Linked DNA regions of Homo sapiens. The protein of the gene in region 5 purifies or fractionates together with the protein of the main gene of each other region. This does not show direct contact. Each region holds a gene or a part of one and is shown on either strand. Other genes may lie near its edges. The genes, in order: ASF1B, BRMS1L, SUDS3, ING2, RBBP7, ARID4B and SAP130.

What was found.
Region 1: the proteins of RBBP7 (region 5) and ASF1B purify together in Homo sapiens (affinity purification with mass spectrometry; 5 studies listed by BioGRID and IntAct, with this or other methods). This does not show direct contact.
Region 2: the proteins of RBBP7 (region 5) and BRMS1L purify together in Homo sapiens (affinity purification with mass spectrometry; 6 studies listed by BioGRID and IntAct, with this or other methods). This does not show direct contact.
Region 3: the proteins of RBBP7 (region 5) and SUDS3 purify together in Homo sapiens (affinity purification with mass spectrometry; 5 studies listed by BioGRID and IntAct, with this or other methods). This does not show direct contact.
Region 4: the proteins of RBBP7 (region 5) and ING2 purify together in Homo sapiens (affinity purification with mass spectrometry; 5 studies listed by BioGRID and IntAct, with this or other methods). This does not show direct contact.
Region 6: the proteins of RBBP7 (region 5) and ARID4B purify together in Homo sapiens (affinity purification with mass spectrometry; 5 studies listed by BioGRID and IntAct, with this or other methods). This does not show direct contact.
Region 7: the proteins of RBBP7 (region 5) and SAP130 purify together in Homo sapiens (affinity purification with mass spectrometry; 5 studies listed by BioGRID and IntAct, with this or other methods). This does not show direct contact.

The regions. Positions count from the first base shown.
Region 1 is NC_000019.10:14,123,090-14,126,589, reverse strand, and holds part of ASF1B (histone chaperone ASF1B), read left to right. Parts: intron 1-352; coding exon 353-468; intron 469-3,500. UniProt on the Homo sapiens protein: Histone chaperone that facilitates histone deposition and histone exchange and removal during nucleosome assembly and disassembly. Cooperates with chromatin assembly factor 1 (CAF-1) to promote replication-dependent chromatin assembly.
Region 2 is NC_000014.9:35,857,338-35,860,837, reverse strand, and holds part of BRMS1L (breast cancer metastasis-suppressor 1-like protein), read right to left. Parts: intron 1-3,500. UniProt on the Homo sapiens protein: Involved in the histone deacetylase (HDAC1)-dependent transcriptional repression activity. When overexpressed in lung cancer cell line that lacks p53/TP53 expression, inhibits cell growth.
Region 3 is NC_000012.12:118,379,555-118,383,054, reverse strand, and holds part of SUDS3 (sin3 histone deacetylase corepressor complex component SDS3), read right to left. Parts: intron 2,894-3,500; coding exon 2,824-2,893; intron 2,086-2,823; exon of another isoform or gene 1,367-2,085; coding exon of another isoform or gene 1,221-1,366; intron 1,196-1,220; exon of another isoform or gene 1-1,195.
Region 4 is NC_000004.12:183,510,494-183,512,929, reverse strand, and holds the end of ING2 (inhibitor of growth protein 2), read right to left. Parts: coding exon 1,978-2,436; 3' UTR 501-1,977; downstream 1-500. UniProt on the Homo sapiens protein: Seems to be involved in p53/TP53 activation and p53/TP53-dependent apoptotic pathways, probably by enhancing acetylation of p53/TP53. Component of a mSin3A-like corepressor complex, which is probably involved in deacetylation of nucleosomal histones.
Region 5 is NC_000023.11:16,856,863-16,860,362, reverse strand, and holds part of RBBP7 (histone-binding protein RBBP7), read left to right. Parts: intron 1-1,513; coding exon 1,514-1,687; intron 1,688-2,653; coding exon 2,654-2,769; intron 2,770-3,500. UniProt on the Homo sapiens protein: Core histone-binding subunit that may target chromatin remodeling factors, histone acetyltransferases and histone deacetylases to their histone substrates in a manner that is regulated by nucleosomal DNA.
Region 6 is NC_000001.11:235,321,680-235,325,179, reverse strand, and holds part of ARID4B (AT-rich interactive domain-containing protein 4B), read left to right. Parts: intron 1-3,500. UniProt on the Homo sapiens protein: Acts as a transcriptional repressor. May function in the assembly and/or enzymatic activity of the Sin3A corepressor complex or in mediating interactions between the complex and other regulatory complexes.
Region 7 is NC_000002.12:128,011,060-128,014,559, reverse strand, and holds part of SAP130 (histone deacetylase complex subunit SAP130), read left to right. Parts: intron 1-1,405; coding exon 1,406-1,530; intron 1,531-3,500. UniProt on the Homo sapiens protein: Acts as a transcriptional repressor. May function in the assembly and/or enzymatic activity of the mSin3A corepressor complex or in mediating interactions between the complex and other regulatory complexes.

The DNA.
Region 1 (3,500 bases), on a different chromosome or scaffold from region 5:
TGAGACAGGAGAATCGCTTGAACCTGGGAGGCAGAGATTGCAGTGAGCCAAGATCACACCATTGTACTCCAACCTGGGTGACAAGAGTGAAACTCCATCTCAAAAAAGAAAAAAAAAATTAGCTAGGCGTGGCAGCGGGCACCTATAATCCCAGCCACTCGGGAGGCTGAGGTATGAGAATCACTGGAACCTGGGAGGCGGAAGTTGCAGTGAGCTGAGATCGCATCACTGTATTCTAACCTGTGTGACAGAACGAGACTCCATCTCAAAAAAAAAAAAAAATACAAGAGCCTATCCCTGCCTTCTTGCTGTTGAGCTATTTCAATTAGTTAACCCTCCTATATCTTTGCAGACCTGGAGTGGAAGATCATTTATGTTGGCTCGGCTGAGAGTGAGGAATTTGATCAGATCCTAGACTCGGTGCTGGTGGGCCCTGTGCCAGCAGGGAGACACATGTTTGTCTTTCAGGTAAGAAAGATGAGGCCTTAGGCCTTAGCCCTTGATTCCTAGAAACATCCTCTTTTACCTGAAATCCCACAGAGTGCTTCAGGAATCAAAAGTTCAAGTTCAGCTGGGCACGGGCTCACGCCTATAGACCCAGCTACTCCAGGGACTGAGGTGAGAGGATTGCTTGAGCCCGGGAGTCTGAGGCTGCAGTGAGCCACTGCACTCCAGCCTAGGCAACACAGTGAGACCCTGTCTCTAAAAAAGAAAAAAACAAGTATTAAAAACATAGAGGCCGGGCACAGTTGCTCACACCTGTAATCCCAGCACTTTGGGAGGCCGAGGTGGGAGGATTGCTTGAGGCCAGGAGTTTGAGACCAGCTGGGGCAATATAGTGAGACCGCATCTCTACAAAAAATGTAAAAATCAGCAGAGCATGGTGGTGTGCGCCTGTAGTCTCAGATACTTGGGAGGCTGAAATGGGAGGATCACTTGAGCCTGGGAGATGGAAGCTACAATGAGCCAAGACCACACCACTGCACTCCAGCCTGGGCAACAGTAAGACCCAGTCTCAATCAATCAATTAAAACAATTTAAAAGTTCAGGTTCAAATCCTAGTTCTACTGTCAGGAACTATCTGACCTCTCAGAGGCCGTCAGGCCCTCCCTTCCCCCACCTCTGTGTCAAAGCTGCCACTGATTTACAGGCAATTCCCATTATTTACAAGAGTTACGTTCTATAAAGTTGCCGCGAACACTGAATTAGTGAATACTGAACCATTGCCCCAGGGGAAATACAGGGTTAGATTCTTGGAAGTCACATTTTCGTCAGCTGGTTAATACGTAAACTTGTATGTGTGTTTATGTTGAAAAGACACCAGGACGGCTATGATGGCTCAAACCTGTAATCCCAGCACTTTGGGAGGCTGAGGTGGGTGGATCGCCTGAGGTCAGGAGTTCAAGACCAGCCTGGCCAATGTGATGAAACCCCGTCTCTACTAAAAATACAAAAATCAGCCAGGTGTGGTGGCGCATGCCTGTAATCCCAGCTACTCGGGAGGCTGCGGCGGGAGAATCGCTTGAACCTGGGAGATGGAGATTGCAGTGAGCTGAGATCGCACCAGTGCACTCTAGCCTGGGTGATACAGCGATACTCTGTCTCAGAAAAAAAGGAAAGATACCTTATTTAATATATACAGTGGTTCATTTATGTTGAATTCACAGCCAACAGCACTATAACTCTCCTGAATGAAACTTCTCTAATACGCATATTTTCCATAAAGCCTTTCTTGTATCCTACACTGCACTTCAGCACTACCGTTGGGTGCCATCATAGACAGCAAACTCACCAACAAAAAGCACAAAACATGGAAAAAAGCACTAAGTAGGCTGAGGAAAGGACGCTCATTCACAGTGAGAGCTGAGACCAGAAGACAGAGTGTTGCCTTGTTTGACCTCAGGTGGGAACAGGCGTGGTAGGTAACTCTAGGTGGGAACAGGCATGGTAGGTAACTCCAGTTTTTCCCTGCTCTGTGCATGTCTGCAAGTGACTGTGAAAGCAAGCAGGTGTTCATCTTGGGGTTACAAATAAACTTAGCAGGTAGGTGAACTTGCACATATGGAACCCATGAATAATGAGGATGGACTGTAACTCCTAAATGGCTCTCATGCAGCACCCCACCTGGGTTGTCAAATGTAGATTCTGGCCGGGTGTGGTGGCTTCCAGCACTTTGGGAGGCAGAGGCGGGAGGACTGCTTAAGGCCAGGAGTTCCAGACTAGCCTGGGCCACATAGCGAGACCCCCATCTCTACAAAAAATAGAAAAATTAGCCGGGTGTGGTGGCTTGCACCTGTCGTCCCAGCTACTTGGGAGGCTGAAGCAGGAGGCTTGCTTGAGCCTGAGAGTTTGAGGCTACAGCGAGCTATGATTGCACCTCTGCACTGCATTCTGGGTGACAGCGAGACCTGTCTCTACAAAAAAAACATTAACCAGGCATAGTGATGCAGGCCTGTAGTGCCAGCTACTAGGGAGGCTGAAGCAGAAGACTCACTTGAGGCCAGGTGCCATGGCTCACACCTGTAATCTCAACACTTTGGGAGGCTGGGGCAGGCAGATCACTTGGGGTCAGGAGTTAAAGACTAGCCTGGCCAACATGGTGAAACCCTGTCTCTACTAAAAAATACAAAAATTAGCTGGATGTGGTGGTGCACATTTGTTATCCTAGCTACTCGGGAGGCTGAGGCACGAGAATTATTTGAATCCAGGGGGCGGAAGTTACAGTGAGCTGAGATTGCGCCACTGCACTCGAGCCTGGGCAACAGAGTGAGACCCTGTCTCTAAAAAAAAAAAAAAAAAAAAATAGGCTCGCTTGAGCCCAGGAGTTCCAGGAGTTTACAGTGATCTGTGATTGCACCACTGCACTCCAGTCTGGATGACAGAGGGAAAAGCTATCTCTTTAAAAAAAGAAGGCCGGTGCAGTGGCTCACGCCTGTAATCCCAGCACTTTGGAAGGCCAAGGTGGGCGGATCACAAGGTCAGGAGATTGAGACCATCTTGGCTAACATGGTGAAGCCCCATCTCTACTAAAAAATACAAGAAATTAGCCAGGCCTGGTGGCGGGCACCTGTAGTCTCAGCTACTCAGGAGGCTGAGGCAGGAGAATGGCGTGAACCTGGGAGGCGGAGCTTGCAGTGAGCCGAGATCACGCCACTGCACTCCAGCCTGGGTGACAGTGAGACTCCATCTCAAAAAAAAAAAAAAAAAAAAAGAAGAAAGAAAAAACAAATGGAGATTCTGAGTTCTCCAGGTGATTTTTCAGGATCCTCTGCTCGGATACACTCCCTTACCTCCATCACTGCTGTTACCGCCCTAATCCAAGCTACCACATCCTATCTAACCCCTTCAGCCACCACTACTAAATCCACTGACAGGCCCTATCTACTCAACAGTCAGGACTGGCCTCCTGGGTGTGCAACCCAGGCAGCTGCACAGGACCCCACACTTGGTGCGATACTCTGCTGTCACCGTCTGAAACCTAATAGCTTTTCTGGAGGGGC
Region 2 (3,500 bases), on a different chromosome or scaffold from region 5:
CTTTCCCAGGCTGACGCCTATGCTGTTTCTCATCAGGAGAGCTTTAAAAAGCCCCAGGAAAGTGGCCCCAAGCTTCCATTATTGTACCGACCTCACACTGACCTGTATTCAGAACCAACTCCTCTTTGGCAGTTCCCTGACTTAACATACCTCACAATTCTCAACTTCTATCAGGACTGGAGCCCTGGAAGATTTTCATAGGCTATTATCAGAGAGTGACCCATTAAAACGCTACAATAGTTTTTTTTTTTTTTTTTTAAGCATACTGCACTGGAATAAAAAAAATGCAGAGTAGAATTTTAAAACTTAGAAACAGACTCTGGCTATGCGGAAATGACAAAGGTGACTTTTTAAATCATCTGGGAATCTGACAATAAATGACAAGAGAAAAATGAGTTTAGGCCAGCCACGGTGGCTCATGCCTGTAATCCTAGCACTTTGGGAGGCTGAGGCAGGTGGATCACTTGAGGTCAGGAGTTCAAAACCAGCCTGGCCAACATGGTGAAACCTCGTTGTCTACTCTACCAGAAATACAAAAAAATTATCCAGACATGGTGGTAGACACCTGTAATCCCAGCTACTCAGGAGGCTGAGGCACTAGAATCGCTTGAGCCCAGAAGGTGGAGGTTGCAGTAAGCCGAGATCATGCCACTACACTACAGCCTGGGTGACAGAGCAAGACTCTGTCTCAAAAAAAAAGAAAAATGATTTTAACTATATCCTGAATATTTTTTGCTTTACATTATACAATTTACATTACACATAAAAGTAAATGGACTAAAGGATTAAATTTATAAAATGAAAGCTAAAAGAAAATATTAAAGAAACAATATATAAGAAATTTCCCAGAACTGAAGATACGAATTTTTTTATTAAACAGTTCATCTGGTCAGGCACAATGGCACACACCTATATTCCAGCACTTTGGGATACGGAGGCAGGAGGATCACTTGAGCCCAGGAGTTTGAGACCAGCTTAGGCAACACAGTGAGACCCCATCTCTACAAAATATTTTTTAAAATTAGCTAAGCATGGCAGCGTGGGCCTGTAGTCCCAGCTACTCAGGCAACTGAGGCAGGAGGATTACTTGAGCCCAGGAGTTGGAGGCTGCAATGAGCTATGATTGCACCACTGTACTCAAGCCTGGGCAATAGAGCGAGACTCTGTCTCTTTAAAAAAAAATTCAAATAAATAAATACATAAAATCAAAAGTTCCTCTGGGTATCCAGCACAATGAACGAAAAAAGACCACATCAAAGCACATCATCTCACAATCCCACAATACCAAGACAAGAATAAAGAGAAGATCCTAAAAGTATTCAGGAAGAAAACAGGTCATGTACAAAGGATCAGGAATCAAAATGGTAAGAGACTTTACAAAAGCAACGCTGGAAGCTAGAAGATAATGGAACAATGCCTTCAAAATTCTGAGGAAACATGATTTCTATCTAGAATTCCATACTCTTAAGTGTGAGCGTCAAGATGTTTTCAGACAGGAAAGATGTGGTGGTTTTAAAACATGTCCAATAATCCTTTGATACTCCTAATTTCAAATGGTAGAGACTAATACTCTTTCTTGAATACGGGTAGGATGGGCCAGGCACGGTGGCTCACGCCTATACTCCCAGCACTTTGGGAGGCTGAGGCTGGCGGATCACTTGAGGTCACAAGTTCAAGACCAGCCTGGCCAACATGGTGAAACCCAGTCTCTACTACAAAAAAGGAAAAAATAAGCCGGGCGTGGTGCAGGAACCTGTAATCCCAGCTACTCGGCAGGCTGAGGCAGGAGAATCACTTGAACCCAAGAGGTGGAGGTTGCAGTGATCCGAGATTGCACCACTGCACTCCAGCCTGGGTGACTAAGCAAGGCTCCATCTCAAAAAAAAAAAAAAAATGGGTAAGATATAGCAACTGACTTCTAGTGAACAAAATCTGGCAGAAATCTAGGCCATAAAAACAGTCACCTCTGTCTTGCTATCTTGGATCACTAAGTCTGGAAGAACCTGGGTACCAGGTTATGAGGACACTCAATCAGCCTGTGGAGAGGCCCATGTTCTCACATGGGTTCTCTAAGGCTTCTCACCAAGAACCAGCAACAACTTGCCAGCCTGCGAGTGAGTCACCTTAGAAGCGGATCCTCCAGCCTCCAATCAAGCCTTGAGATGACTGCATCCCTGGCTGATATCTTCACTGCAACTTCTTGGGATTCCCTGAGCCAGAACCATCCAGCTAAGTTGCTCCCAAATTCCTGGCCACTGAGACTGCAAAATAATAAATGTTTATTGTTGTGTTAAGCCACTAAGTTTTGGAGTAATTAATTATAAAGCAATAGACAAGCAATACAAGAAATCTCAAAAAACTAACTTCTAGAAATCCTTTGTCAGGATGCTACTGAAAGATACACTCTACCAAACTTAAGGAGAAAATAAGATGCTAGCAGAGGAGAGGTGAAGGGGACATCCAGGTTGCTGGTAAAGAGATGCCCCAAGAAGACAGATGCAGCTGGCCTCCAAATGAAAGATGGAGCAGGAGGATAGGGGACACGAGGGATAGAGGGGTTGCTTCCAGGAGGGAGCCCTTCAGAAGAAAATGAGGCTGATGGATTATCTGATAAGTTTGATCGCAGAGAAAACAGCGTTAGGACTTCAGTGTCTGAAAGAAGCAAATATGAGGGGGTTTTCTAGGTCATTCTAGAAGTCATCAGAAGACACTGTTTACACCTAACTTTAAAACGAGAAGCAGTTTTGACCTTTACTGGACAGGAGTTTAAATCTTCATACAGTTGAAAACTTATGAGAGGTCCAGTGCTTTTTTTTTTTTTTTTACTTTTCTTGAGTCCATTAGGTAACATGCTCTTTATTTTGTGGAATACTCAGGCTTCATGAAAAATCAATACAACTGTACATGTTTAGCTTAATTAAAAAAAAAAACAGCATTAGGAGGCCCTCATAGATCTGCTAAGGTCTGTAGGAAGAATTGATAAACACAGAGAAAACTAACAAACAATAAATGAAGCAATTATTAATTCCAAAGTTTAAAAAAATACACAAGAAAAATTTTAAACATAATGTAACTCTTGACTCAGTAAACAATATTTATAATTTAAAACAAAAACTGTAACACAACAGTATTAGAAGAATGAAACAGAAAAATCCTCAGCTTCCATAATAGGAAACCAATAGATAATGTCTAAAACTGCTTTATTTAGAAATATGAGGGCCAGGCGCAGTGGCTCACACTTATAATTCCAGCACTTTGGGAGGCCAAAACAGGAGGATCACTTGAGGCCAGGGGTTCAAAACCAGCTGGGCAATATAGCAAGACCCCCATCTCTATAAAAAAATTTTTTTTTAAGAAAGGAATATGAGGGTAAATTCCAGAAGCAACTGATACACAAGTTAGAAATATAATTGCCACTGGGATACAGAATTTAAAAATAGGACAGAAGACTGCTGTTTTTCATTATAAATTATAAGGCTATGCCTTCAAAAATATATACA
Region 3 (3,500 bases), on a different chromosome or scaffold from region 5:
TTCTGATGCACTTTAGATTTCCCCTTGAATTACACAAGGCATTCCATTTTAACCGAAATTTTTTCTGTATCATCAAATACTAAGGGAGGCCAGGCAAGGTGGCTCACGCCTGTAATCCCAGCACTTTAGGAGGCCGAGGCGGGTGGATCACTTGAGGTCAGGAGTTCGAGACCAACCTGGCCAACATGGTGAAACCCTGTCTCTACTTAAAAAAAAAAAATTAGCCAGACGTGGTGGTGGGCGCCTGTAATCCCAGCTACTCGTGAGGCTGAGGCAGAAGAATAGCTTGAACCCAGGGGCTGGAGGTTGCAGTGAGCCGAGATCATGCCACTGCACTCCAGCCTGGGCGACAGAGCAAGACCCTGTCTCTTAAAAAAAAAAAAAAAAAGGCTGGGCACATTGGCTTATTCTTGTAATCCTAGCACTCCAGGAGGCCGAAACAGGAGGAATGCTTGAGCTCAGGCATTCAAGACCAGCCTGGGCAACACAGTGAGACCTAGTTTCTACTAAAAATTTTAAAAATCAGCTGGGCGTGGTGGCACGTGCCTGTTGTCCCAGCTACTTGGAAGGCTGAGGTGGGAGGATCAATGGATTGAGCCCCAGAGGTTGAGACTGCAGTGAGCTGCTATCATGCCACTGCACTCCAGCCCAGGCAACAAAACAAGATACTGTCTCAAAAAAAAGTGGCTACTGTCTCAAAAAAAAGTGGCCTGGCACGATGGCTCAGGCCTGTAATCTCAACACGATGGGAGGCTGAAGCAAGCAGATCATCTGAGGTCAGGAGTTCAAGACCAGCCTGGCCAACATGGTGAAACCCCGTCTCTACTAAAAATACAACAACAAAAAAATCAGCCAGGCGTAGTGGCGCATGCCTGTAGTCCCAGCTACTCAGGAGGCTTAGCCATGACAATCACTCGAACTCAGGAGGTGGAGGTTGCAGTGAGACGAGATCATGCCATTGCACTCCAGCCTGGGTGACAGAGTGAGACTCTGTTTCAAAAAAAAAAAAAGTAATCCATCTTTATTCAGCACTGGTTAGACCTAGCTGAATTACCCCTTTGAGTTCCAAAGCACAAAAACAATGTGAGAATCCAGAGGATGGCCACAAAACATTTGCAAAAAGGACCTAAAGGGAAATGAATGTGGATCATCCTGTTAAAAGGTAAAGAACTTTAAAAACCTAACACATTCAACAAATATACATTAAATATACTTTATACCGTTTTCCATCTGGGTGTACGCTAAAAGTGAGTGAGGTTTTCGTTTCTCTGAATCTGTTCGGCTGTGGCTCTGTCTGAAGACAATGAGAAGGTTTGGGTGAGAGCAGGTGCAAACGTGGACAGAGCACTGGCCTGAGAGTCAGCATGTGGCCAGGCAGGGTCGCTCACGCCTGTAATCCCAGCACTTTGGGAGACCAAAGCAGGTGGATCACCTGAGGTCAAGAGTTTTGACACCAGCCTGGCCAACATGGAGAAACCCCGTCTCTATTAAAAATACGAAAATTATTAGCCGGGCATGGTGGCATGTGCCTGTAGTCCTTGCTACTCGGGAGGCTGAGGCAGGAGAATTGCTTGAGCCCAGGAGGCAGAGGTTGCAGTGAGCCGAGATCAGGCCACTGCACTCCAGCCTGGGCAACAAAGCGACACTCCATCTCCACACAAAAAAAATAAATAAATACAAAAATTAGCCGGGCATGGTGGTGCATGTCTATAATCCCAGCTACTTGGGAGGCTGAGGCAGGAGAATCACTTGAACCTGGGAGGTGGAGGTTGTGGTGAGCCAAGATTGCACCACTGCACTCCAGCCTGGGCAACCGAGCAAGACTCCATCTCAAAAAAAAAAATTAAACAAATAAAAATAAATAAATAAATAAATAAGAGTCAGCAGCCTGCTTTTCAATCGTGGCTTCTCTGAGCTCTCCAGGCCTCCGGCACCTTGTCTAGCACATTAGTGCAGTGAGTTTACACTCACCTGAGAACCCAATTGCTTCAAGACAACAATTACCCTCTCTGTGCATTGGTTTGCCCATTAAAAAAGAAAAGAAAAAAAAAGGTCCGGGCGCAGTGGCTCGCGCCTGTAATCCCAGCACTTTGGAAGGCCAAGGTGGGCGGATCACGAGCTCAGGAGTTCGAGACCAGCCTGGCCAACATGGTGAAACCCTGTCTCTACTAAAAATACAAAAATTAGCTGAGCGTGGTGGCGTGCACCTGTAATCCCAGCTACTCAGGAGGCTGAGGCAGGAGAATCATTTGAATCCGGAAGGCGGTGGTTGCAGTGAGGAGATCCTGCCACTGCACTCCAGTCTGGACGAAAGAGCAAGGCTCTGTCTCAAGGAAAAAAAAGAGTAAGTAGTAAAAGGTCCTCTCCTGTTGTACGGCCTCATTCCCTCCCCTGGGTCCATTGCCCTCAAGATTCTTTCTAGAGAGTACTCAACAAAGTCTTATAACGGGAAGACTGATTAAATGTAATTAATTTAAAGTGGAGAAATTGTAAACATACATGGTCTTTGGAAGCGCTATGGTCAAACTCATACACACAAGGTTACTACAGATTAAGTATCCCTTATCTGAAATGCTTGGGATCAGAAGTGTTTTGGATTTTTTCAAATTTTAGATTATTTGCAATATACTTACCAGCTGAGCATCCCACATCCAAAAATCTGAAATCTGAAATAGTGCAATGAGCATTTCCTTTGAGCATCATGCTGGCACTCAGGAAGTTTTAGATTTTGGAGCATCTGAGATTTCAGATTTGGGATGCTCAATCTATATAAAGATGTTGTCAATTCTATGTTCCAAAAAGACATAGGCATATCATACTCACTGTTCCTTCATTTCTACATAGTCTTCTTCATCATGCTTTGCCAGGTCAGTTTCACTAGCATCCTCAGTGTCTGAATAAAGTTAGGAAATAGGGGCTAGTTAAAATCATAATTCACGGAGTTGGCGTCACCTGACACAGAGTATGCACTCAATAAACTCCCGTAAAATCAATTTCTATTCAAGGCAGGCTTGCACAAAGCCATCAATGAAAAACATTACATACAGTTAGTAGGCCATCCCTATCTGCAAACACGAAACCTGTGGACACAAAAGGCCAATGCAAAGAATTTGAGTATCCTCAGGTTGTAGTATCCATGAAGTCCTGGAACCAGTCCCCCATAGATACCGAGGGACAGCCGTACTTCAGAAAAGAAAAGGCCATTTCCAACTTACAGTCAGATTTATGCAAAAAGCTTGCCTTTACCTGAAATGCAGCCACAGAATAGGGTGTCTCAGGCACAGGCAGTTATGGTGAAGGCTGCTACTTCTGCAGAAACAACAATGCTGGCAACTCAAGAAAGGAGATGCAGGCGTAAGACTGGACACTGCAGGCAGTCAAGCCTTACTCGCTGCTCCAGAAAAAAACTAGTATGTACATTCTCTTCTGATACATACCCAGTTGGAACCCTTCGCACATTTTACATCAGGATACACGGTTGTCCCTCAGTATCCGTGGGG
Region 4 (2,436 bases), on a different chromosome or scaffold from region 5:
AGATATTAGGTCTTAAAGAGAGCACACCTTCCAGGATTTTCCAGGTTCGTTTTCCCGTCAAGTCTAATCCAAACTTTGGCATTTCTATTAGGAAGTCGTTTCTTTTCTCCCATCTGCCAAGGCAGATTTACGTATGAAAAAGTGGTGACTTCTATGTAAGTCGCATCTGAAGGCTTTGGGGGTTTTGTCCATACTGATATTTTTAATGGTGTCAAGTAAAAAGCTCCATTCTGGTAACAAGGTTGTAATCACTAAAACAAAATGCCATATTCTCAAAAGGATTTCCTTACAACTCAGCTAAGTTATGGTGATGAGAAAGGATTTGCTAAATTCTTAATCATGCTGTCTAACATTTCTCACTCAAAAGGTAATAGAATCAACTAGCTCTAGTCATGAATCCAAATATTCTTAGGACAGAAGCTAACAAATATTGCACATTTACCCATCTCCAAACTCACCTTTAAACTATCTTTATACCTCAGAATGAAGGACAAAATTAATGAAAAGAGAAGTCATGTCATTATTAAAATCCTCACTATAGTGCAAATAGTAGAAATTTCCAAGGAATCTCGGAGATATTTAAGCCAACTCATTTTACAGGTGAATGACCTGACACCCAGACAAGGTGAAATGACATGCCTAAAAGTCACACAGGAGAGCTAGAAGAGAAAAAAAGCATTTTTTTTTCCCAAAACAAGCAGACAGGATTTTTCATGTTAATCAAAAAGAATCAAGATCATCAGATTAGGAAGAAATGAGGAATAAAACATACGTTACACACAGATTTAAAGAACTAGTCAATCTGCTGCCCCCAAAACCAAAACCTTCTCTAAACATATGGACATATATCCATCAAGATGCTTACCCTTCAAATATCAGAATCTTGGAAAATTCAATTTACAAATACATTAATTGCATTATGATGATGAAATAAGTTAATTAAATGTGAAAACATCAAACAGCACCAATACTAGAAGTTAAGACAGTAAATACACTATTATTTAAAATAGTCACTGATTGGGACAGAAATGAACAATAACCACTAGCAAAACCATTTAAAACAACTCTCTGACATAAAGGCAATATTTAAAGACTACTATATGCCCCTTTCCACTGATAGGCCTGTGGCTACGCATCCTGGCAGCAGGTCACATGGAAAATACTATTAATTAAGATGTATTTTTAAATTGTTCAACCTTGAGCCGTGATACTATATAACCCAAAGTTTGCCAATGTAAGCCAATGTATATTTTTGGTATGCTAACTACTCTTACCTGTCCCAATTAAAAGAAAACACAAAACAACTCCCTTATTAAGCACTAGACTAAGTATATCTACAAAGCAGCAGCAAGGCATTGACAAATGGGCTACTGACAGTGGATCAAAATGCTACTAAGCAAAAGACAGCAGCACGTACTCTCATAAGAGCACATTATTCCACATGGAATCCCAAATTACTCTTATCTCCAGTTCCTTAAACTCCTAGAAGACTAGAGATGAACAAGCCAACGTATAAATAGGACTAGGGAAAAAGCAGCTCAAATGGCATAGTGTCTGTATTTTAAAGTACCCAAGATCATTTGATGCTTAAGAGAAATCCCACTACATCTAACATTTTTTTAAGCATGTATAACTAAAATGCTAGTGAAACTTTTGTGTTTACCCAAAAAATAACATTGCAGTTTTAAGTGAAAATGAAATAGGCATGGTTTGTGAAATTTTTATAATGTTTACACCACCCTCTTCCTGTTCCCTGCTCCTTTCATCAGGTGATCTGAAGACTACCTGGTTGGAAATATTTGGTAACTCAGTGCAGAAAATTAAGGTCACAGACAAAGTACAACAACTTTTAATACACCATTAATACTAATGATTAAAAATTATTGCATAGTCTTATGCATTTACCCTAAAACATTTTCTGAAAGCAAACGAATTATATAAAAGACAAATAACCCTTTAAAATGTGGATGGCCTTTACTACCTCGATCTTCTATCCTTTTTTGTCTTTTCAGTACTTTTGTCCATTGTTTTCTCATTATCTCCCCTGCACTTTGGGCAATACCATTTCCCCTTTGGTTTATAGGTAAGTGAAACACATGAAAAGTGAAACCATTCAATTGGACACTGTTCATTGTCACATCCTATCATCTCCCCATAAGACACTTGGTTGCATAAGCAGTATGTAGGTTCATTAGGATCTATTGCAAACTCAACAGGTGAAGCTTCCCTTTCCTGCTTGGCCTTGGAGCGTTTCTTTTTCTTTGCTGACTTGGATTTCTTTTCTTTAGGTGGCTGATCATCACAGTCTTCAATCCCATTTGCCATGTGACATAAATCACGGCTTTCACTGGTCCGCTGCCTGCGGGGTCTTCTTGAAGATCTTTCTGGTTGGCTGGAATCCATCTTTGCTTTATCTGAGGCTCGTTCACTTTCAGC
Region 5 (3,500 bases):
GACTTTTCAAAATTTTAAGTTTGAGAAAACAAAACTCTGTGTTCAAAGTAAATCCTACTTGGAAGCCCCGCCCCCCCCCCTTTTTTTTTTAAAGGAGAGCTCTTCAGGTTGTTTTAGCTAAAGGAATCAGGAAACTTGAGTATCTTTGTAGCAGAAGGGTTAGAGCCACTGGAGTCCATGGAATGGGATGTTGAAGGTCAAAGTGGAGCAGATTTGGAGCAGTCTCAGGAGGGAGGAGACGATTGGATCAGGAGGGGTCTTAGCATGCCGAGGCACATTTCTTCCATTGACACCATGGAACAGAAGGTGCTACGAGGAAAAAGGATCCTTTTGCATGTGGTCACATGAGAGTAGTGGGTAGAGGAGCTTTGGAGTAATCGTGGATTTGAGATACGGTTTTTTCAACCACACTGAAATAGTAAGCTATGTTTGCTTCAGAGAGGAACGGCTAGATACTGATATTAAGACATGGAAGCGAGTGTTCATTAAGCATTCCACATAGAAGGAGCTGCCTGGAACTGAGAAATGGTTTGCTCCTTTTGGTGGTTGCTCCAGGCCCCGGTCTATTTTACTTCTTACCTGTCTGGCTCCAGTAGGCATTTGTGTTAGTTGTCCCTGACCTGAGACACAGGGTGAGCTAAAATGGAATGTGCAAAGAAAAGGCAATATAGGTCAGGAAGAATAACACAATTGTAATGTGAACCCTCCTATCTTTTTAAGCGTCAGCAACTAATTCAGGTTTTTTTATCTATGAGCACAAAAAAGAATGTTCTTGTTTGCTGTATTTGCTTAGATGTTCTCTACTTGTATTCTTTCTGCTAACATGTTGCTACTTCTTGGAAGTTACCGTACTTTTTATATGACTTTGTTACTTTACAAGGCCTTTTTCATGATTATTTAATACTATAGTCTTATTCACACACCAGATGGGCGGAGAGGTTAACCTTGGCACTGCACTAGCAGTTAAACCAAGTATGCTGGCAGGGCCAATGTATGTGTGTTTAGGGACAGGTAGGGGTTAGCGTGGGTTTCTGATTGATTTGAGGATGCTTCTGACTTCAGACTCAAAGGGTGTTCATACTGTGGAGGGTTAAAACCTTTCCTGTTTTGATGAATCCTAAAATAAGATGCTAATTCAGTGCAGTACTTACAGTGAGTTGTATTTGAACTAAAAAGCTATTGGTCTGCTTATTATATGGTTACTTGAAATTTCAGTGAATAACTATATCATCTTCATAACTGAAAGAGGACAGTTGTTTTAGATCCAAGGTGGAACTGAATTAAGTTGCATAAGGCAGCTACCAATATTTTCCAGTGCAAATGGGCTTTAAGAATAAATTGATGTGGCAAATGAACCCACATTTTTGGGTTTTCTCTATGCATGTTTCTGTCTTTGTCTTGTCAGTTTGTGTTGTATTCTGCCAGGTCAAAATCTGTTAGGTTGATTGAACTAAGTGATTTGTGAATTTTAATCCTGAGTGTGTGTGTGTGTGTTTCTTTCTCCTCACATTAGAATTTGGTGGCTTTGGTTCTGTAACAGGAAAAATTGAATGTGAAATTAAAATCAATCACGAAGGAGAAGTAAACCGTGCTCGTTACATGCCGCAGAATCCTCACATCATTGCTACAAAAACACCATCTTCTGATGTGTTGGTTTTTGACTATACAAAACACCCTGCTAAACCAGGTATGTAATAATAGAGTTAGGTCATTACTTGAGCAGTTTTCTTGATTCAAACTGGTAATGTTTTTAAGGTCAAAGTAGCATACTTTATAATATTTAAAGGTTTAAAAATTGCTTTGGGGGTCCCATAACCATCCTCAAGTTCAGGGATTTGCCAGAACTACCTAAAAGCAGCTTATACTAACAGCTAAAGTTTATTACAGCAAAGAATCCAGAGCAAGAGTAGGAAGAAAAAGATACACATCAGGGGAAGTCCAGAGGGGTTAGCTACAGGCGTCTGAGTCCTTCCCATCCAGGGCCACGTGGGACATGTTTTGTCTCTAGCAGCAAACCATAGGAACATGTGCTAAATGTCTCTACCCAGGGCAGCCCATTTGAGTTTCAGAATCTGGGATTTTTGTGGAGGTCTGTTGGCGTGGGCACATCCTGTTCTATGACCAGCCATGGTAACAAAATTGAGGACCCCAATAGTGAAGCCAAATACATTGTGAATCTTGCTAAACAATCCTACAAGTCTTGACAGGTCCCTATGGCATACCCCACTGCTCTGGGCTTACAAAACTTTATCAGTCAGTGACGTGAAGAACTTTCTGAGGGTCACATTCCCAGGGGTTGGCCAAGGGTCATTTATGGTTGCAGGCTACCCTAGAGGCATGCAAGGACTGAGCAACCAGACCTGTTGTGTTAGAAATATTTCTAAAAAATTGGGGGGTTGCGGGGATACGGTCACCACTGCCCAAATTTGTAGGATAGCTATAGTTTTTAATATTTTTGTGTTGGGGATAGTATTAGGTTTTCCAAAGAAACCAATCATCTAATGGTCATGAGGCTCAATTTGCATTGGGTATTAAAGACCAGATCTCGTTCGTGTGCAGTTGCTGTAATGGTTCACTCAATGAAGGAGTGAGAATTTATTCTCACCAGTTCTGATAAACAGAGAATAACTTAATGTTTTTCATCTTTTCTTAGACCCAAGTGGAGAATGTAATCCTGATCTCAGATTAAGAGGTCACCAGAAGGAAGGCTATGGTCTCTCCTGGAATTCAAATTTGAGTGGACATCTCCTAAGTGCATCTGATGACCATGTGAGAAACGTATTCTTTGTAATTTGTTCATATAGTGAGAGCTGACGTGTCACAGCTGTGCTGAAGGAGTACTATATAGATGAAAGGTTTTCTAAGATAATACTGCTGATTATTGTGGTAACATTCCCCCAGGACTTTAGAGAGATGGTTTTCATACTGCCCTGTATGAGTCTTCGGATTCCACAGAGCTCTTTTGAAGTAGCCTTAGAATGGAGGGAGCATAGGCAAAAGGCCTCCCATTATTTAAAAGAGGACCCTCCAGGCCCTTAAAATGGAAACTGTAGAGTGTTTGTGGGACCTGATTAATATAAAGTATTTTTTAAGTGTACAGTTCAGTGGGTTTTAGTATATTCACAAAGGTGCACAACTATTGCCACTAATTCTAGAATGTTTTCATTCGCTCTCTGAAAGAGAAATTCCATACCCATTAAGCAGTGACTCCCCACTCATTCCCTGCCTTCCCCCAGCTCCTGGTAAGCACTAATTTATTTTCTGTCTCTATAGAGTTATCTGTTCTTGGTATTTCATGTAAATGGAATCTCATATATGGCCTTTTCTGTTTGGCTTCTTTCACTTAGCATAATGTTTTCAAGTAACATTACTTATGTTCCATTCCTTTTTATGGATGAACAATATTCCACTGTATGGATATACCACAGTTAGCTTATTTGTCAGTTGATGAACCATTTGAGTTCTTTCTACTTTGGGGCTATTTTGAATTATGTTACAAG
Region 6 (3,500 bases), on a different chromosome or scaffold from region 5:
TAAATTTCTAACTTCATACAAGTACTTCCTGTTATTATAAGTATAGCAAATCTCAGAGAATTTGCTAGTAATTATTAGTACTAAAAACTTAGCTTATTTCTTACAACTTTATTTCTTATGTGATAAAAGATGAGAAGCTTCTTGTAATTTGTATTTTGCTTTAGCAAAAATTGCAATTCAGAATCTATTTAATGTTGAGTGTATTAGGCCTAAATTTTGTTTCTTTTTCTGTGTGTTCCCAATTTCTTTCGTTCTTTTTTATTTTTCTTTTTGATATAGAGTCTCACTATTTCACCCTGGCTGGCACGATCTGTAACTGCTGCCTCCTGGGCTCAAATAATCCTCCCACCTCAGCCTCCTGAGTAGCTGGGACTACAGGCACACCTGGCTAATTTTTGTAGTTTTTGTAGAGATGAGGTTTTGCCGTGTTGCCCAGGCTGGTGTCGAACTTCTGGGCTCAGGTGACTCTCCCGCCTTAGCCTCCCAAAGTGCTGGGATTACAGGCGAGAGTCACCGTGCCTGGTGTAATTTCTGTATTACGATGATCATTGAGCTACAGAAGGTTTTATGCCATTTATTGGATCTTACCAAACATATTTGTACTTGGGAGCAAGCTTTTAAGTTTGAATTGTCTGTTGTATTAACGACAACAAATCTTTAAATTTTATTAAGTGACAGTTTATTGAGGTGATTGAAAGTTAGATTATGTAGTAATACTTTTTAGGTGTTGTTTTAAAGTTGAAGTGTTGTATGTTTTAGCAGTTTTCCCATGTACTACCTTTAAGAATTTATGTAAACAAATACATTCCCATTACTGTCTAATATATGCTATGTTACTTTTTTCACAGTATGTTTTTGAGGAATATGATTCGTAATACATAAGGAATTTGTGCTGTAACATAGATCGTGATGTTGGTGTTATGTTGAATTTATTTTTCATGCTCTTGATAGACTTTTAAAAATCAGTGGTGCCGGCTGGGCATGGTGGCTCACGCCTGTAATCACAGCACTTTGGGAGGCCGAGGTAGGAGGATCACCTGAGGTCAAGGGAGTTTGAGACCAGCCTGGCCAGCGTAGTAAAACCCTGTCTCTTCTAAAAATACAAAATTAGCTGGGCATGGTGGCACACACCTGTAATCCCAGCTATTCGGAAGGCTGAGGCAGGAGAACTGCTTGAACCCAGGAGGCGGAGGTTGCAGTGAGCTGAGGTTGCGCCACTGAACTCCAGCCTCGGCGAAAAAAGTGAAACTCTCTCTCTCAAAAAAAAAAAAACTAAATAAAATAAAATAAAAATCAGCAGTACCACATTATAAGGAGGTGGTAGATTATTAAAGTTTGTAAATAATTCCAAGACTTATTTTTATTATGTCAGGTTGATTTTTACTTTTTTTTTTTAAGACGGACTTTTGCTCTTGTTGCCCAGGCCGGAGTGCAGTGGTGCGATCTCGGCTCACTGCAACCTCTGCCTCCCAGGTTCAAGCAGTTCTCCTGCCTCAGCCTCCTGAGTAACTGGAATTATAGGCATGCACCATCATGCCGGGCTAATTTTGTGCTTTTAGTAGAGACAAGGTTTCTCCATATTGGTCAGGCTGGTCTCGAACTCCTGACCTCAGGTGATCTGCCCGCCTCGGCCTCCCAAAGTGCTGGGATTACAGGCGTGAGCCACTGCGCCCGGCCGATTTTTACTTTTTTTAAACTCAAACTTTTTTTTCCTGTATCTATATTGTACATGTTATTAACGTCTTTTATTACGTAGCAGTAAATTTTCAATTAAAATGGGCTGGTTGGGCTGGATATACCAGAATCTTTAGAGGAGGAATGATTTAGATGATTATACTTTGGCGGGCATGGTGGCTCATGCTTGTAATCCCAGTACTTTGGGAGGCTGAGGTGGGTGGATTACTTGAGGTTGGGAGTTCAAGACCAGCCTGGCCAAAGTGATGAAAACCCCGTCTCTACTAAAAGTATAAAAAAATTAGCTGGGCATGGTGGCGCATGCCTGTATTCCCAGCTACTCAGGAGACTGAGGTAGGATCGCTTGAACCTAGGAGGTGGAGGTTGCAGTGAGTCGAGATGGCACCACTGCACTCCAGCTTGGGTGACAGGGAGACCCCATTTCAGGAAAAAAAAAAAAAAAAAGGTGGTTATATTTAGAATCCACGTAGATTGAATTTTCCAGATGTACTTTTCTTTCTTCAACAATGATTGGCTTAGGCCACATGAAAAAATAATGGATTGATTACAAATTCCCTTTTTTAATGCCCTGTGTGTGTGTACATGTTCTCTCTCTCTCTCCCCCTACCTCTACCTTTGTTTGTCTCCCTATCCACTCTGTCAGTTCGTTCCCCCCTCTCTGTTCTTTTCCTTCCCCCTCTTCCTTCTGTCTCACCCCTTTCATAAGTCATTCATTTAACAACAACCCGTTTCATATATCAGGTAATATAGAATGAAGGTGGGTGAGGCATCTGACCTGCTTTCAGGGAGCCCACAGTGTAGCAGAAGATGCAGATAAATAAAGCAAAACTCCTAGCATATCTATTTATGAGTATTCCAACATAAAATAATTGTAGGAAATGCTATGAGAGGACAGAAGAGGACAGCTAAATCAGAGAGCTATGGAAAGTTTTCTGGTGGAGTTGACATCTAAGCTGAGTGCGAAGGCTTTTGCTAGGCAAAGAAGGGAAGAAAAGTTTTTCAGATAGAGGATAACGTACTGGAAAATGAACGAAACAAGGTGAAGTATCTGGAAACTGTAAGTAATTTGGTGTGACTGAATTAACTTAAAGCATGATATGTTTGGGTAGGAATAAAAGGGCAGTGGTGGGAGATGAAGCTGAGTGAGGGAGTCGAAAATTTTCTTGGCCAGGCATGGTGTCTCACACCTGTAATCCCAGCACTTTGGGAGGTTGAGGCAGGTGGATCACCTGAGTTCTATACCAGCCTGGCCAACATGGTGAAACCCTGTTTCTACTAAAAATACAAAATTAGCAGGGCATGGTGGTGTGAGCCTGTAATGCCAGCTATTAGGGAGGCTGAGGCAGAAGAATAGCTTGAACACGGGAGGTGGAGGTTACAGTGAGCCGAGATCATGCCATTGCACTCCAGCCTGGGTGACAAGAGCAATACTCTGTCTCAAAAAAAAAAAAATTTTTTCTTGAAAACTACATGGAACCATTGAAAGTTGTTGAGAATTGCTTGAACCCAGGAGCTGGAGGTTGCGGTGAGCTGAGATCAGGCCACTGCAAAAACAAGGGGAGAGCTGAATGTAAGGATGGAAATTCCAGGTAAGAAGTCCAAGTGGAAAATGAATAAGGGCCTGAACTAATGCATTGGAAGTGGAGCAGAGAGGATAGATCTGAGCCTTTTTGAAGTAGAATTCAGGGCCGGGCACAGTGGCTCACACCTGTAATCCCAGCACTTTGGGAGGCTGAGGTGGGTGGATCATGAGGTCAGGAGATTGAGACCATCCTGGCTAACACAGTGAAACCCCGTCTCTACTA
Region 7 (3,500 bases), on a different chromosome or scaffold from region 5:
TTTGAGACCAGCCTGGGCAACATGGCGAAACCCTGTCTCTACAAAAATACAAAAAATTAGCCAGGTGTGGTGGCATGCGTCTGTAGTCCCATCTACTCAGGAGGCTGAGATGGGAGGATGGCACTCAGGAGGCTGAGATGGGAGGATGGCACTCAGGAGGCTGAGATAGGAGGATGGCACTCAGGAGGCTGAGATGGGAGGATGGCACTCAGGAGGCTGAGATGGGAGGATGGCTTGAGCTCGGGAGGCAGAGGTTGAAATGAGTTGAGATTGCGCCGCTGCACTCCAGCCTGGGTGACAGAGCGAGAACCTGTCTCAAGAAAAAGAAAAAAAATCGCAAGACAGTAGAAATAAACTTAGAGCAATCCATGTTTTTAGCATGGTTTAATATGTGCTTATTATAGTTGTATTACAAGTGTGTATATTTATGCAATTAAAGTGTTTAATATGGTCTAAAATTGTCCTATATATTGAGGAACTGCCCAAGCTTTGATAATCTCAACATGGTCTTTATTATTAGACTGCTTATCTGCAACATGGTCTTTATTTTTAATACATAAGTCACAAATATTAATACTGAATATTTTTAAAGTTCAGTGATGATCTTTACTCAGTTTTTTAACTTATGTAACAATAAAATGATGATGATAATTATTTTTTGAGATGGGGCCTCACTGGGTTACCCAGGCTGGTTTCAGATTTCTGGGGCACAAGCGATCTTCCCACTTTAGCCTCCTGAGTGGCTGGGACTACAGGTGTGAGCCACCACATGGCTAAGATTAATTTATTTTTACCCTTAAGTTCTAATAGGTTGTGAGGTAATAAATGAATTTTGACTAGAAATTTTTACCTTTTATTGGAGACTTTACAACAATTGGAGATTGTTGGCAAAATCAAGTTAGCAAACGCAAGACCAGGTTTGCTTGGTTATAGCATAACTCAGCAGTTCTCCAAATGTGGTTCACAGGCCCTTATGGGGGTCTGCAGGGTGAAAAGTGCAGGGTTAGGTTTAAGGTTAAGGTTCATAATGTGTCCCTTTGGCAATGTCGACGTCTGCTCTAATGGAACAAAGACTGGAAGGCAAAGTGTCCGAGCCTCGTCAGAGCTGAGGCAGTGGCATCACACTGCTGTTCCCTGTGTGCTTTACCACTGTGCACACTTGCAGTTAACAGAAACAAAAAACAGCAGCTAGTTTCACTTAAGGTTGTCTGTGAAGAGGCAATATAAATTATTATTAAATCTCTTGAATACACATTTTCTTTGTTTTCTCTGTGATGAAATGGGAAGTATACATACCATACTTCAGCTCGATATTGACATGCTATCTGAGTTTTGGGAAACATACTGATTATTTTCCCAGGGAATATAACTAGAATAAATATAATAAACACTTTTTTTTTTTCAGGTGCAGCTGCTGCTGCTGTGATGTCCAGTTCTAAAGTAACCACAGTCCTGAGGCCGACCTCACAGCTGCCAAATGCTGCTACTGCTCAGCCAGCAGTACAGCACATCATTCACCAACCAATCCAGGCACGTCGGAGCCTGGGGTGCATTAAGGGCCTCATTGGAGTTATTCATTCTGCCAGGCACTAGGCACATCCTTGACCTCAGGGACTTTCCATCTAGTTGCCAAGACATAGGGAAGTTTGAAAGATGCACAGTGTCATGTGGCAAGCTGTAAGAATGCAGAGGAGAGATGGTGGGAAGCCTTCCTGTTGGAAAGGCTGTGCTAACGAGGAATCAGAGAAGTGAAGAGGAAGTGAAGGGGGAAATGAACAGTGGCAAGGAAGGGAGTGATGGTTGTAGACAGCAGTTAGTAAAGGCTAGCTAGGATTGAGGGATTTTAATTTGGATTGGGGGGATCTGTGGACTCCTAAAAGTTAGGTGTATATCTATGTATATTCCAAGAACATGGTCCATGCCATTCAGCTTTTTCTTAAGGAAATCTATGACCTCATTATTACTGAAGTATAATATATTTGCAGGAAATATAGTATCTATAAATTGGGTTCTCTAGGATATGGAGTATAAACTAGACTTTATATACAGTAGAGAGCCACTGCGTTTTTTTGTTTATTTGTTTTTGTTTTTTGAGACAGTCTCACTCTGTTGCCCAGGCTGAAGTGCAGTGGTGCGATCCCAGCTCACTGCAACCTCTGCTTCCTGGGTTCAAGCGATTCTCCTGCCTCAGCCTTCCAAGTACTTGGGACTACAGGTGTGCACCACCATGCCCGGCTAATTTTTATACTTTTAGTAGAGACAGGATTTCACCCTGTTGGCCAGGCTGGTCTCGAACTCCTGACCTCAAGTGATCTGCCTGCCTCGGCCTCCTGAAGTGCTAGGATTACAGGCGTGAGCTACTGTGCCCGGCCAAAAATCATTTTTGTCTTTTTAACACAATGGCTCTGTGTATCATTAAAGTAATACTGTTGAAAGATGAGATTAGGCCAGGCGCAGTGGCTCACACCTGTAATTCCCAGCATTTTGGGAGGCCAAGGCGGGCGGATTGTCTGAGATCAGGAGTTTGAAACCGCCTTGGGCAACATGGTGAAACCCTGTCTCTACTAAAATGCCAAAAAATTAGCTGGGCATGGTGGTGCGTGCCTGTAATCCCAGCTACCTGGGAGGCTGAGGTGGGAGAATCACTTGAGTCCGAGAGGCAGAGGTTGCAGTGAGCCAAGATCGTGCCACTGCACTCTAGCTGGGACGAGAGAGTGAGACTCCATCTCACAAAAAATAAGAAAGATAAGATTAATCTAGCTGAATCACATACAGGAGGTCTGTCCCCTTAAGCACTTTCAGGGGACAGACAGATGTATGAAACAACTGGGTTTAAGATAATAAGGAAGTCTTGATTATGATACTGGGTAGTATCTGTCTAGCCTACAGCTTTCAAGATAAATACTTTTCTGGCCAAGAAAACAGAGTCGGAGGAGTATTAGGCCTCTAGTAGTATATGTGATACATATGAAGGGTTGGAGGAAGACGAGAACCAAGACAAGGAGCTCCCGAGTGAGGAAGCTGGTGCTGTAGCCCTAGTGTGAGACACGCACCTGCACATGGTAGAAGCGGCAGGTAAAAGGGCTGTAGATGAAAAGCAAGGATGAGGAATGGGCAGAGCTCGGCCATTTAGATGCATGTTTCAGGGTTAAGAGCAAGGGAAGAATCAGAACTCAGGTGATTCGAAGAATAATGGTGGGTATGTGGATGAAGCCCAGTGTGGAGCTTATTTTTTAGAGGAAGATTTCACACGTAAGTGTGATAAGGGCACTCTGTCCATGTGAAAACATCCAGAAAGGATATGGGCACCCTGAACGATTACCTAGAAAAGAATACTGTTACCTTGAGTTGCCCTTGTACTCACTAACGTAGATGGCCTGAGAGCCAACAGCTCTATTCAGCAGCTGAGTAGGCCCTCTGTGGAGGTGCTGGGTTGGATGGCAGCGTAAAATGTCTACACCAGGACCAACAACAGACCTGTGGCAACTCTAGATTGAAGG